Homo sapiens: one gene and its partners. The protein of the gene in region 1 purifies or fractionates together with the protein of each later gene. This does not show direct contact. Each region holds a gene or a part of one and is shown on either strand. Other genes may lie near its edges.

Evidence for each region. Proteins that work in one complex are often made in the same cells at the same time.
Region 2: the proteins of ABCA1 (region 1) and KIF11 purify together in Homo sapiens (co-immunoprecipitation; one study listed by IntAct). This does not show direct contact.
Region 3: the proteins of ABCA1 (region 1) and DTNB purify together in Homo sapiens (pull-down; one study listed by IntAct). This does not show direct contact.

What each region holds. Positions count from the first base shown.
Region 1 is NC_000009.12:104,812,881-104,816,874, reverse strand, and holds part of ABCA1 (phospholipid-transporting ATPase ABCA1), read left to right. Parts: intron 1-529; coding exon 530-732; intron 733-2,399; coding exon 2,400-2,448; intron 2,449-2,643; coding exon 2,644-2,757; intron 2,758-3,994. UniProt on the Homo sapiens protein: Catalyzes the translocation of specific phospholipids from the cytoplasmic to the extracellular/lumenal leaflet of membrane coupled to the hydrolysis of ATP.
Region 2 is NC_000010.11:92,595,788-92,599,781, forward strand, and holds part of KIF11 (kinesin-like protein KIF11), read left to right. Parts: intron 1-1,071; exon of another isoform or gene 1,072-1,502; intron 1,503-3,994. UniProt on the Homo sapiens protein: Motor protein required for establishing a bipolar spindle and thus contributing to chromosome congression during mitosis. Required in non-mitotic cells for transport of secretory proteins from the Golgi complex to the cell surface.
Region 3 is NC_000002.12:25,380,009-25,383,919, forward strand, and holds part of DTNB (dystrobrevin beta), read right to left. Parts: intron 3,882-3,911; coding exon 3,828-3,881; intron 1-3,827.

The sequences.
Region 1 (3,994 bases):
TGCCTAGTCCTAATGGCTGGCTTTTCCCAGGAAGGCTTCTGCTTCCATGGACTGTTAGATTAACCCTTTATTTAGGTAAATGAGGGAACCTACTTTATAAGCATAGGAAAGGGTGAAGAATCTTTTAAGATTCCTTTACTCAAGTTTTCTTTTGAAGAATCCCAGAGCTTAGGCAATAGACACCAGACTTTGAGCCTCAGTTATCCATTCACCCATCCACCCACCCACCCACCCATCCTTCCATCCTCCCATCCTCCCATTCACCCATCCACCCATCCAGCTGTCCACCCATTCTACACTGAGTACCTATAATGTGCCTGGCTTTGGTGATACAAAGGTGAATAAGACATAGTCCTTTCCTTTGCCCCCAACCCTCAGACCAGAGATGAACATGTGGAATGACCTAAACACCTGGAACAGGTGTGGTGTATGAGCGGCAGGCCTCTGATGAGAGGGTGGGGGATGGCCAGCCCTCACTCCGAAGCCCCTCTGAGTTGATTGAGCCATCTTTGCATTCTGGTCCCTGCAGATGTCTCTGCTATCTCCAACCTCATCAGGAAGCATGTGTCTGAAGCCCGGCTGGTGGAAGACATAGGGCATGAGCTGACCTATGTGCTGCCATATGAAGCTGCTAAGGAGGGAGCCTTTGTGGAACTCTTTCATGAGATTGATGACCGGCTCTCAGACCTGGGCATTTCTAGTTATGGCATCTCAGAGACGACCCTGGAAGAAGTAAGTTAAGTGGCTGACTGTCGGAATATATAGCAAGGCCAAATGTCCTAAGGCCAGACCAGTAGCCTGCATTGGGAGCAGGATTATCATGGAGTTAGTCATTGAGTTTTTAGGTCATCGACATCTGATTAATGTTGGCCCCAGTGAGCCATTTAAGATGGTAGTGGGAGATAGCAGGAAAGAAGTGTTTTCCTCTGTACCACAGTACATGCCTGAGATTTGTGTGTTGAAACCAGTGGTACCTAACACATTTACATCCCAACCTTAAACTCCTATGCACTTATTTACCCTTTAATGAGCCTCTTTACTTAAGTACAGTGTGAGGAACAGCGGCATCAGGATCACTTGGGAACTTGTTAGAAATTCAGCAACTTGGGCCCAGCTCAGACCTACTGAATCAGAATCAGGAGCAATTCTCTGGTGTGACTGTGTCACAGCCAGGTATCAACTGGATTCTCATACATAGGAAATGACAAACGTTTATGGATGGATAGTCTACTTGTGCCAGGTGCTGAGATTTGTTTTTTGTTTTTTGATTTTTTTTTAATCACTGTGACCTCATTTAATTCTCAAAAAAAGATGAAAAAATGAACACTCAGGAATGCTGACATGAGATTCAGAATCAGGGGTTTGGGGCTTCAAAGTCCATCCTCTCTTTATCCATGTAATGCCTCCCCTTAGAGATACAACATCACAGACCTTGAAGGCTGAAGGGGATATAAAAGCTGTCTGGCCAAGTGGTCTCCAAGCTTGACAGTGCAGCAGAATCACCTGGGGATATTATTAAAAATAAACATACTAAGGTTTGGCTTCAGGGCCTGTGAATCAGAATTTCTGGAGGTGAGGCCTTGAAGTCTGTATTTCTATTGCATACTTTGGACACAGTGGTCTATAGACTAGAGTTTGGAAATGATTGCGCTCATTCAGATTCTCTTCTGATGTTTGAATTGCTGCCATCATATTTCTAGTGCTCTATTTCCTCCTGCTCATTCTGTCTTGGATAACTTATCATAGTACTAGCCTACTCAAAGATTTAGAGCCACAGTCCTGAAAGAAGCCACTTGACTCATTCCCTGTAGGTTCAGAATAAATTTCTTCTGCGCAGTGTCTGTCATAGCTTTTTTTAAATTTTTTTTTATTTTTGATGAGACTGGAGTTTTGCTCTTATTGCCCAAGCTGGAGTGCAGTGGTGCGATTTTGGCTCACTGCAACCTCCACCTCCCAGGTTCAAGCGATTCTCCTGCCTCAGCCTCCCAAGTAGCTGAGATTACAAGCATGTGCTACCACGCCCAGCTAATTTTGTATTTTTAGTAGAGATGGGTTTTATCCATGTTGGTCAGGCTGGTCTCGAGCTCCAGACCTCAGGTGATCTGCCCGCCTCGGCCTCCCAAAGTGCTGGGATTATAGGCCTGAGCCACAGCGCTCAGCCATAACTTTAATTTGAAAATGATTGTCTAGCTTGATAGCTCTCACCACTGAGGAAATGTTCTCTGGCAAAAACGGCTTCTCTCCCAGGTAACTCTGAGAAAGTGTTATTAAGAAATGTGGCTTCTACTTTCTCTGTCTTACGGGGCTAACATGCCACTCAGTAATATAATAATCGTGGCAGTGGTGACTACTCTCGTAATGTTGGTGCTTATAATGTTCTCATCTCTCTCATTTTCCAGATATTCCTCAAGGTGGCCGAAGAGAGTGGGGTGGATGCTGAGACCTCAGGTAACTGCCTTGAGGGAGAATGGCACACTTAAGATAGTGCCTTCTGCTGGCTTTCTCAGTGCACGAGTATTGTTCCTTTCCCTTTGAATTGTTCTATTGCATTCTCATTTGTAGAGTGTAGGTTTGTTGCAGATGGGGAAGGTTTGTTTTGTTGTAAATAAAATAAAGTATGGGATTCTTTCCTTGTGCCTTCAGATGGTACCTTGCCAGCAAGACGAAACAGGCGGGCCTTCGGGGACAAGCAGAGCTGTCTTCGCCCGTTCACTGAAGATGATGCTGCTGATCCAAATGATTCTGACATAGACCCAGGTCTGTTAGGGCAAGATCAAACAGTGTCCTACTGTTTGAATGTGAAATTCTCTCTCATGCTCTCACCTGTTTTCTTTGGATGGCCTTTAGCCAAGGTGATAGATCCCTACAGAGTCCAAAGAGAAGTGAGGAAATGGTAAAAGCCACTTGTTCTTTGCAGCATCGTGCATGTGATCAAACCTGAAAGAGCCTATCCATATCACTTCCTTTAAAGACATAAAGATGGTGCCTCAATCCTCTGAACCCATGTATTTATTATCTTTTCTGCGGGGTCCTAGTTTCTTGTATACATTAGGTGTTTAATTGTTGAACAAATATTCATTCGAGTAGATGAGTGATTTTGAAAGAGTCAGAAAGGGGAATTTGCTGTTAGAGTTAATTGTACCCTAAGACTTAGATATTTGAGGCTGGGCATGGTGGCTCATGCCAGTAATCCCAGCGCTTTGAGAGGCTGAGGTGGGTAGATCACCTGAGGTCAGGAGTTTGAGACCAGTCTGACCAACAAGGTGAAACCCCGTCTCTACTAAATACAAAAAATTAGCCGAGTGTGGTGGCACATGCCTGTCATCCCAGCTACTTGGGAGGCTGAGGCAGGAGAATCGCTTGAACCCAGGAGGCAGAGGTTGCAGTCAGCCACGGTTGCGCCATTGCACTCCAGACTGGGCAACAAGAGTGAAAACTCCATCTCAAAAAAGAAAAAAAAAGAATTAGATATTTTGGATGAGTGTGTCTTTGTGTGTTTAACTGAGATGGAGAGGAGAGCTAAGACATCAAACAAATATTGTTAAGATGTAAAAGCACATCAGTTAGGTATCATTAGTTTAGGACAAGGATTTCTAGAAAATTTTTAGGAACAGAAAACTTTCCAGTTCTCTCACCCCTGCTCAAAGAGTGTATGGCTCTTACATTATATATAACTGCCTGACTTCATACAGTATCAGTACTTAGATCATTTGAAATGTGTCCACGTTTTACCAAAATATAATAGGGTGAGAAGCTGAGATGCTAATTGCCATTGTGTATTCTCAAATATGTCAAGCTACGTACATGGCCTGTTTCATAGAGTAGTCTATAAGAAATTGATGACTTGATTCATCCGAATGGCTGGCTGTAACACCTGGTTACGCATGAACACCTCTTTTCAGTTGTCTCAAGACACCTTTCTTTTCTGTACTTATCAGACAAGGACTGAAAGGCAGAGACTGCTACTGTTAGACATTTTGAGTCAAGCTTTTCC
Region 2 (3,994 bases), on another chromosome or scaffold:
ACTCTAAGTACTTCATAAAGTGGAGTCATAATACAGTATTTATCCTTTTGTGACTTGCTCATTCCACTTAGGCATAATGTCCTCCAGGTTGGACCATGTTGTAGCAAATGTCAGGGTTTTCTTCCTTTTTAAGGCTGCATAGTATTTATTATATGTATATACCACATTTTGCTTGTCCCTTCATATGTCAATGGATACTTGAGTTACTTCTTTTTTTGTTGTTGTTGTTTTTGAGACCGAGTCTCGCTCTGTTGCCCAGGCTGGAGTGCAGTGGCGCGGTCTTGGCTCACACTGCAAGCTCCATCTCCCGGGTTCACGCCATTCTCCTGCCTCAGCCTCCCAAGGAGCTGGGACTACAGGCGCCTGCCATCTCTCCCGGCTAATTTTTTGTATTTTTAGTAGAGACGGGGTTTCACCATATTAGCCAGGATGGTCTCCATCTCCTGACCTTGTGATCTGCCCGCCTTGGCCTCCCTAAGAGCCGGGATTACAGGCGTGAGCTACGGAGCCCGGCCTTGAGTTACTTCTTACTTTTAGCTATTATGAATAATGTTGCTATGAATATGGGTTTTCAATTCTTTTGGGTATTTACCCAGAATTGTAATTGCTGGATCATATGATAATTCTATTTTAAAGTTTTTGAGGAACCGACAAACTATTTTCCACAGTGGCTGGACCATTTTACATTCCTACCAACAGTGCATAAGGGTTCCAATTTCTCCACATCCTCACCAACGTTTATTTTCTGTTTCTTTTTTTTTTTTCAAGTAGCCATCCATTGGGTGTGAGGTGCTATCTCATTGTAGTTTTGATTTGTATTTCCCTAATGATTAATGATGTTGAGCATCTTTTCATGTGTTTACTGGCCATTTTGTGTATCTTTGGAGAAATGTCTGTTTAAGTCCTTTGCCCATTTTTAAATTGGTTTGCTTTTTTGTTGTTGAGTTTTAGGAATTTTCTATATATTTTGGATATTTTCAGATACATAAACGGCAAAAATTTTTTCCCCATTACTGTGGTTTGCCTTTTTACTCATTGATACCGTGTGGTCTTTTCCTTTCTTTTTCTTTTTGGAACCAGTGCATGGCCTCTTTGTTGATTCTGTGTTTGGCCCCAGTGCAGCCTGTTCTGTGCTATGTGTCTGCAGTGCTGAAACCAGGCCTACCCAGCACCATACAGAAGTCCAGGCTGTAGATACCAATGCATGGGTCACATTTGATACCCAAATCTGTGTGTTCCTGGATCTCCAAACCAAAGTTTCCAGTATCTGAGAAGTTGTTCTTTCTTGATTCACACTCCTGCATCTTTAGACCTTTCTTCAGGGTTTCTTCTGCTTTGGCCCTTTGTGCAGTGGGTGGCAATCTTCACTTCTCCTGATGCCAAAGGATCTGACAATGTATTTGACTTTGGAGAACACAGGGGTCTGGCCTATGAGCTGCTCCAACACCTTGGCTGCTGGGGTCAGTCATCTCCAGTCTCCTCCATACAGATGTTGAGACAGAAAATCGTTCTGTCACCCAGGCTGGAGTGCAGTGGCACAGTCTCGGCTCACTGTAACCTCTGCCTGTCAGGTTCAAGCAATTCTTATGCTTCAGCCTCCCAAGTATCTGGGATTACAGGTGTGCACCACCATGCCTGGCTAATTTTTTGTATTTTTAGTAGAGATGGGGTTTCGCCTTGTTGGCCAGGCTGGTCTTGAACTACTGGCCTCAAGTGATCCACCCATTTTGGCCTCCCAAAGTGCTGGGATTATGAGTGTGAGCCCTCATCTGGCCAGAGTTCTCTTTTTTTTACCTTGATCTTGCACTATGATGGAGAAAAGGAAGATAAAGTCTTTTTTTTTCCCTTGGGTTTGTTTGTTTGTTTGTTTGTTTGTTTTTTGAGACGGAATTTTGCTCTCGTTGCCTAGGCTGGAGTGCATTGGTACGATCTTGGCTTACTGCAACCTCCGCCTCCTGGGTTCAAGCCATTTTCCTGCCTCAGCCTCTAGAGTAGCTGGGATTACAGGCATGCGCCACCACGCCTGGCTAATTTTGTATTTTTAGTAGAGATGGGGTTTCACCATGTTGGTCAGGCTGGTCTTGATCTCCTGATCTCAGGTGATCCGTCCACCCTGGCCTCCCAAAGTACTGGGATTACAGGCGTGAGCCCGTGCCTGGGCTATTTTTTTTTTCTCCCCTTTAAATATAGTATCTTGCTTTATTGCCCAGACTTGTTGTGAACTCCTGGACTCAAATAGTCCTCCTACCTCAGCCTTCCAGGTAGCTGGGATCACAGGGATGCTGTCTTTTGATACACAAACATTTTAAATTTTTATGAAGTCCAGTTTGTCTTTTTGTTTTTGTTCCCTGTATCTTTGGTGTTATATCCAAGAAATCATTGCCAAATCCATTGTTGTGAAGCTTTTGCCTTATGTTTTCTTCTAAGAGTTTTATAGCTTTAGGTCTTACATACATTTTTGATCCATTTTGAGTTAATATTTGTATATTGTGTTAGATAAGGGTCCAACCTCATTCTTTTGCATATGGATATTTAGTTTCCCAGCACCATTTGGTGAAAAGCTTGTCTTTTTCTGATTGAATGGTCTTGGCAACCTTATTAAAAATCATTTGCTCATATGTAAGAGGGCTTATTTCTAAGTGCTGTTATGTTCCATTGGTCTATAAGTCTGTCTTTATGTCAGTACCACATGGTTTTGATTATTGCAGCTTTGTAGTAAGTTTTGAAATCAGGAAGTGTGAGTCCTCCAGCTTTGTTCTTTTTCAAGATTGTTTTGGCTATCTGGACTCCCTTGGGATTCCATATGAATTTGAGGATGAATTTTTCTATTTTTGTAAAACACGTCATTGGGATTTTAATAGGGATTACATTGAATCTATAGATCACTTTGGGTAGTATTGGCATCTTAACAATATTAAGTCTTTCAGTTCATGAACAAGGGATGTGTTTCCATTTATTTATGCCCCTTAATTTCTGCCAGCAGTTTTTTTTTGTTTGTTTTTGTTTTGAGATGGAGTTTCGCTCTTGTTGTCCAGGCTGGAGTGCAGTGGCACAATCTTAGCTCATTGCAACCTCCACCTCCCGAGTTCAAGTGATTCTCCTGCCTCAGCCTCCTGAGTAGCTGGGATTACAGGTATGTGGCACCACGACCAGCTAATTTTTGTATTTTTACTAGAGACAAAGTTTCACCATGTTGGTCAGGCTGGTCACGAACTCTTGACCTCAGGTGATCCACCCACCTTGGCCTCCCAAAGTGCTGGGATTATAGGCGTGAGCCACTGCGCCTGGCCTCAGCAGTGTTTTATAGTTTTCATTTTATAAGTCTTTCACCTCCTTGGTTAAATTAATTACTAATATTTTATTCTTTTTGGTGCTATTTTAAATTGAGTTGTTTTTGTAATTTCCTTTTTAGATTGTTCATTCTTAGTGTATAAAAATGTAACTGGAGGCTGGACGCAGTGGCTCTCACCTGTTATCCCAGCACTTTGGGAGGCAAGGTGGGCCTCCCAACTCCTGATCACGAGATCAGGAGTTCAAGGCCAGCCTGGCCAACATAGTGAAACCCTGTCTCTACTAAAAATACAAAAATTAGCCATGCATCGTGGCGCGTGCCTGTAGTCCCAGCTACTTAGGAGGCTGAGGCAGGAGAATCGCTTGAACCTGGAAGGTGGAGGTTGTGGTGAGCCAAGATCGTGCCACTGTACTCCAGCCTGGGCAACAGAGTGAGACTCTGTCTCAAAAAAAAAAAAAAAGAAAAAAGAAACGTCGCTGGATTTTGCTTGTTGACTTTCTATCCAGCTACTTTGCTGAATTCACTTATTAGTTCTAACAGTTTTTTTTTGTGTGTGTGTAATTTTAGAGTTTTCTTTTCTTTTTTTTTTTTTGAGATGGAGTCTCGCTTTGTTGCCAGGCTGGAGTGCAGTGGCGCGATCTCGGCTCACTGCAACCTCTACCTCCCAGGTTCAAGCAATTCTCCTGCCTCAGCCTCCCGAGT
Region 3 (3,911 bases), on another chromosome or scaffold:
CCCCGATGGAGCAGAAGCATTCCCCAGGATGCAGCCAGCCAGCCAGGGGTGAACAGGGAGAGGCGTGAGGCAGGGGTGAATATGGCAGGGAAGTTCAGCTTGGTCTAGATTCTTCAAAAGTTCCATTTGACTCTCACAGTTTCCTTATCGAGCAGACTATGTTTGCCTGATGGTGCTGACCAAATTCTGTTTATATTACGTCAGTATGGTTTCAACCCCAAAGAAGCAAATATACTCTCTCTCTTTACGGTTGACAGTTACAGATCTCTGGTGTCCAGGTGACTGCAGTTAGTCCTAGGTCTGTAAAATCTCAGGCCTAGCTCATGGCAGAGAATCAGGAGGTCCACCCATAAAAACACTTAGTCTTATAAAAATGCCCATGTATGAGCTACGTTGTAGTTTCAGGGACATATCCTAGAACCTATATAATGTGGAGAGCCAAACATAAAAAACTCTACCATCTCTCACCCCAACTCTTAACACTCTTGGCCTTAGGGATGACACCAGAAAGTCACATACGTAAAAATTCAGGCATTCCCACAAAAAGATTTCACATAGACATACAGACATTCTGGTATATGCACTGAAAGACAGACAAGGAGCTCTAAGGGCAAGAGGCACAGAAAGACAGAAGAGATGCAGACAGGGCAGTGCAGGTGTAAAGACAGTGCCCTGGGGCCTGGAGTGCCGGGAAAGGGAAACCCAGTCTGATGCGAACAGGGCAGTGCACGTGCAGAGACAGTGCCCTGGGGCCTGGAGGCCCGGGCGAGGGAAACCCAGTCTGATGTGGACAGTGGAGTGCAGGTGCAAAGACAGCACCTTGGGACCTGGAGGCCCGGGCAAGGGAAACCCAGTTTGATGTGGACAGGGGAGTGCAGGTGCAGAGACAGCACCCTGGGGCCTGGAGGGCTGGGCAAGGGAAACCCAGTCTGATTCCCATGTGAGGCATGGCCCACACTCAGACTCGAACCAGGATAAGGGCTAGAGTTCGTGGCCAGGGCAAGGCCTCAGTGGCTGGGGCAGTCCTAGGTTTGCTTTGGTGGAGTGAAAAGGACTGAGGAGAGGCCATGGGAAAAAGCTACTGGGGAAGGGAGGGGCAGGTGAAGGGAGGCCAGAGATGCAGCTGTTATGTCTTCAGCCAGGAACATTCCACATGAATGCTAGGATTTGGTTGGCATGTGCATGTGCATGTGCGTGTGCGTGTGTGTGCGCGTGTTTGCAGCATGTGTTTACACCAGTGTAAATTTATCTGTGTATCTCTTCACCTTTTGCCCTCCTGCCTTCTTTCTTGTCTGTGTGGGTAAGTCAATTGTTTCTACATTTCTATGAAGCATTCCTGGATGTCTGAAACACTACTGCTCTCTAATGTGACCTTTTATTTTTATTTTTTAGATAGGGCTTTGCTCTGTTATCCAGGCTGGAATGCAGTGGCGTGACTATAGCTCACTGCAGCCTTAAACTCCTGGGCTCAAGCAGTCCTCCTGCCTCTGCCTCCAAAGCAGCTGGGACTACAGGTGTGCACTACCACATCCGGCTAATTTATTTTTTGTAGAGATGGGGTCTTGCTATGTTGCCTATGCTGGTCTCAAACTCCTGGCATCAAGTGATCCCCCTGCCTCAGCCTCCTAAAGTGCTGGGATTACAGGTGTAAGCCACCATGCCCAGCCTAGTCTGACCTTTTGGTGTCCGTGCCACATATGTCATTCTCATCAACTCGTTGGCGCTGCTGTCCACTTCCTCCCAGGCCTAGCTCAGACTCACTAGACGATTTCAGAATCTGCAGAATCTTCTTCCTCTTCTCCCAGTTTCTTCCTCAGCAATTTCAGGGTCCTTGCTGACAAATTCCTTGCCCCGTGAGACTCCAAAGACGACCCTGTCTTAGCCACTCCAGCCCCTATGGGCCAAGAATGCTCCAGACCCACTGTCCTGTAGGTTTCCCTTTCTTGTCACAGCTTCCTTACCTGTATCTCCCACTTGGCTTCTACCCTTCCTTAAGTAAGACCACTCCACTTCCCTTAGTCTACCAGTTCAGCTCAGACTAAACCATGGGCATTGGAGTTGAACTCAGGCTGTGCCATTTATCAGCTGGCAGGTTCTTTCACTCCCCCGAGCCTTGTTCAGAATTCCTCCCTGGGAGGGCTGCTGCTGGCTCCTCCTCATGCTTCCTGCTCTCCCTACCTTCACCTCCTTGGGGTGACCAGCCATTGCATTTCTCTCCCCGATAAGGTACTCTCTATCTCATCACCCCATTTATTTCCTTTGATTTGTTCATTTATTGACCTCCTACTAAGCACCAGGCACTGGAACACAACATGAACAAAACAGACTAAAATCTCTGCCTTGAGGAGCTGATGTTTAGGAGGAATCCAGCAACTAACACATTAATGCACAACAGAAAGAACAGCTCACCCTCAAATGTCCAAAGAAAATTTTGTTTTCTGTTCAGTATAACATAGAAGGATGAAGATTAAGAGCACGAAGTTTGGAGTCAGAAAGACCCAGTTCTCTGCCTTTTTTTTTTTTTTTTTTTTTTTTTTTGAGACAGAGTCTCTCTTTGTTGCCCAGGCTGGAGTGCAGTTGCGTGATCTTGGCTCACTGCAACCTCTGCCTCCTGAGTTCAAGGGATTCTCCTGCTTCAGCCTCCCGAGTAGCTGCGATTACAGGCATGCACCACCACACCTGGCTTATTTTTGTATTTTTAGTAGAGACAGGGTTTCACCATGTTGGCCAGGCTGCTCTCGAATTCCTGGCCTCAAGTGATCCGCCCGCCTCGGCCTTCCAAAGTGCTGGGATTACAGGTGTGAGCCACCACGTCTGGCCTAAATCTCTGCCGTTTAACAGCTACATGAACAACATCTCTCTGAGCCTATTTCCTCATGGGTAAAATGGGGATATTCGAATCTGTCTCACAGTGTTAAGGATTAGATGAGATCATCATACGTGAAAATCATTCCCTGCAGCTCTTCCCAGATGTCATGTGTTAAGCAGGTTCGATATATAATGAAACTAGGAAGGCACTACTGTCCTTTGCTGACACCTTCCCTTCTTGGTTTTATTCTTCCATGAAGCCACAAAACCATTTGGCTATTCTAGTCCACAACAATCTCTTCCTTTTCAGAAACCCTTATTATACTTATATGCTGAAAGTTTTATGATTAGCTTTTTCTGCCACTTCATTTGATCTATTTATTTTGCATTTTTGGTCTTTTTTTTTTTTTTTTTTGGAGATGGAGTTTCACTCTTGTTGCCCAGGACGGAGTGCAGTGGTGTGATCTCGGCTCACTGCAATCTCTGCCTCCCAGGTTCAAGTGATTCTCCTGCCTCATTCTCCCCAAGTAGCTGGGACTACAGGCGCCTGCCACCACACCTGGCTAATTTTTTGTATTTTTAGTAGAGATGAGGTTTCACTATGTTGGCCAGCCTGCTGGTCTTGAACTCCTGACCTTGTGATCCACCCGCCTCAGCCTCCCAAAGTGCTGGGATTACAGGCGTGAGCCACCGCACCTGGCCTGGTCTTGCTTTATTAACTAGATCATAAACTTCTCCAGTCAAAGGGTCATCTTTTGTGTTCTACTTGTATCTACTTCCTGTATCCCAACTACCTATCCCAGGATCAGGAAATGAGGAAGCTCTTGGTGATCGACTGACCTTGTCACCTGGAAGGTAAAACCTGACTGTCAGATGGGAAAAGTAGGTACAGGGACCTCGGGTCCGAAAGCTCTGGGAAAGGTGGTGGCAGGGAGGAATGCAGAAACAAAGTGGGGGGCGGCTGATCCATGAGCTCGGGCTCCCCATTTAAACGAGCAGTCCTGCTGAGCTGCCTTTACCTCTGTCTTTCCCATTCTGCATCTTCTCTTCTTCTTCCTCTGCACCTTCCTCTGCTGTGAAAACAAGTCCAAGGAGGCCAGTGA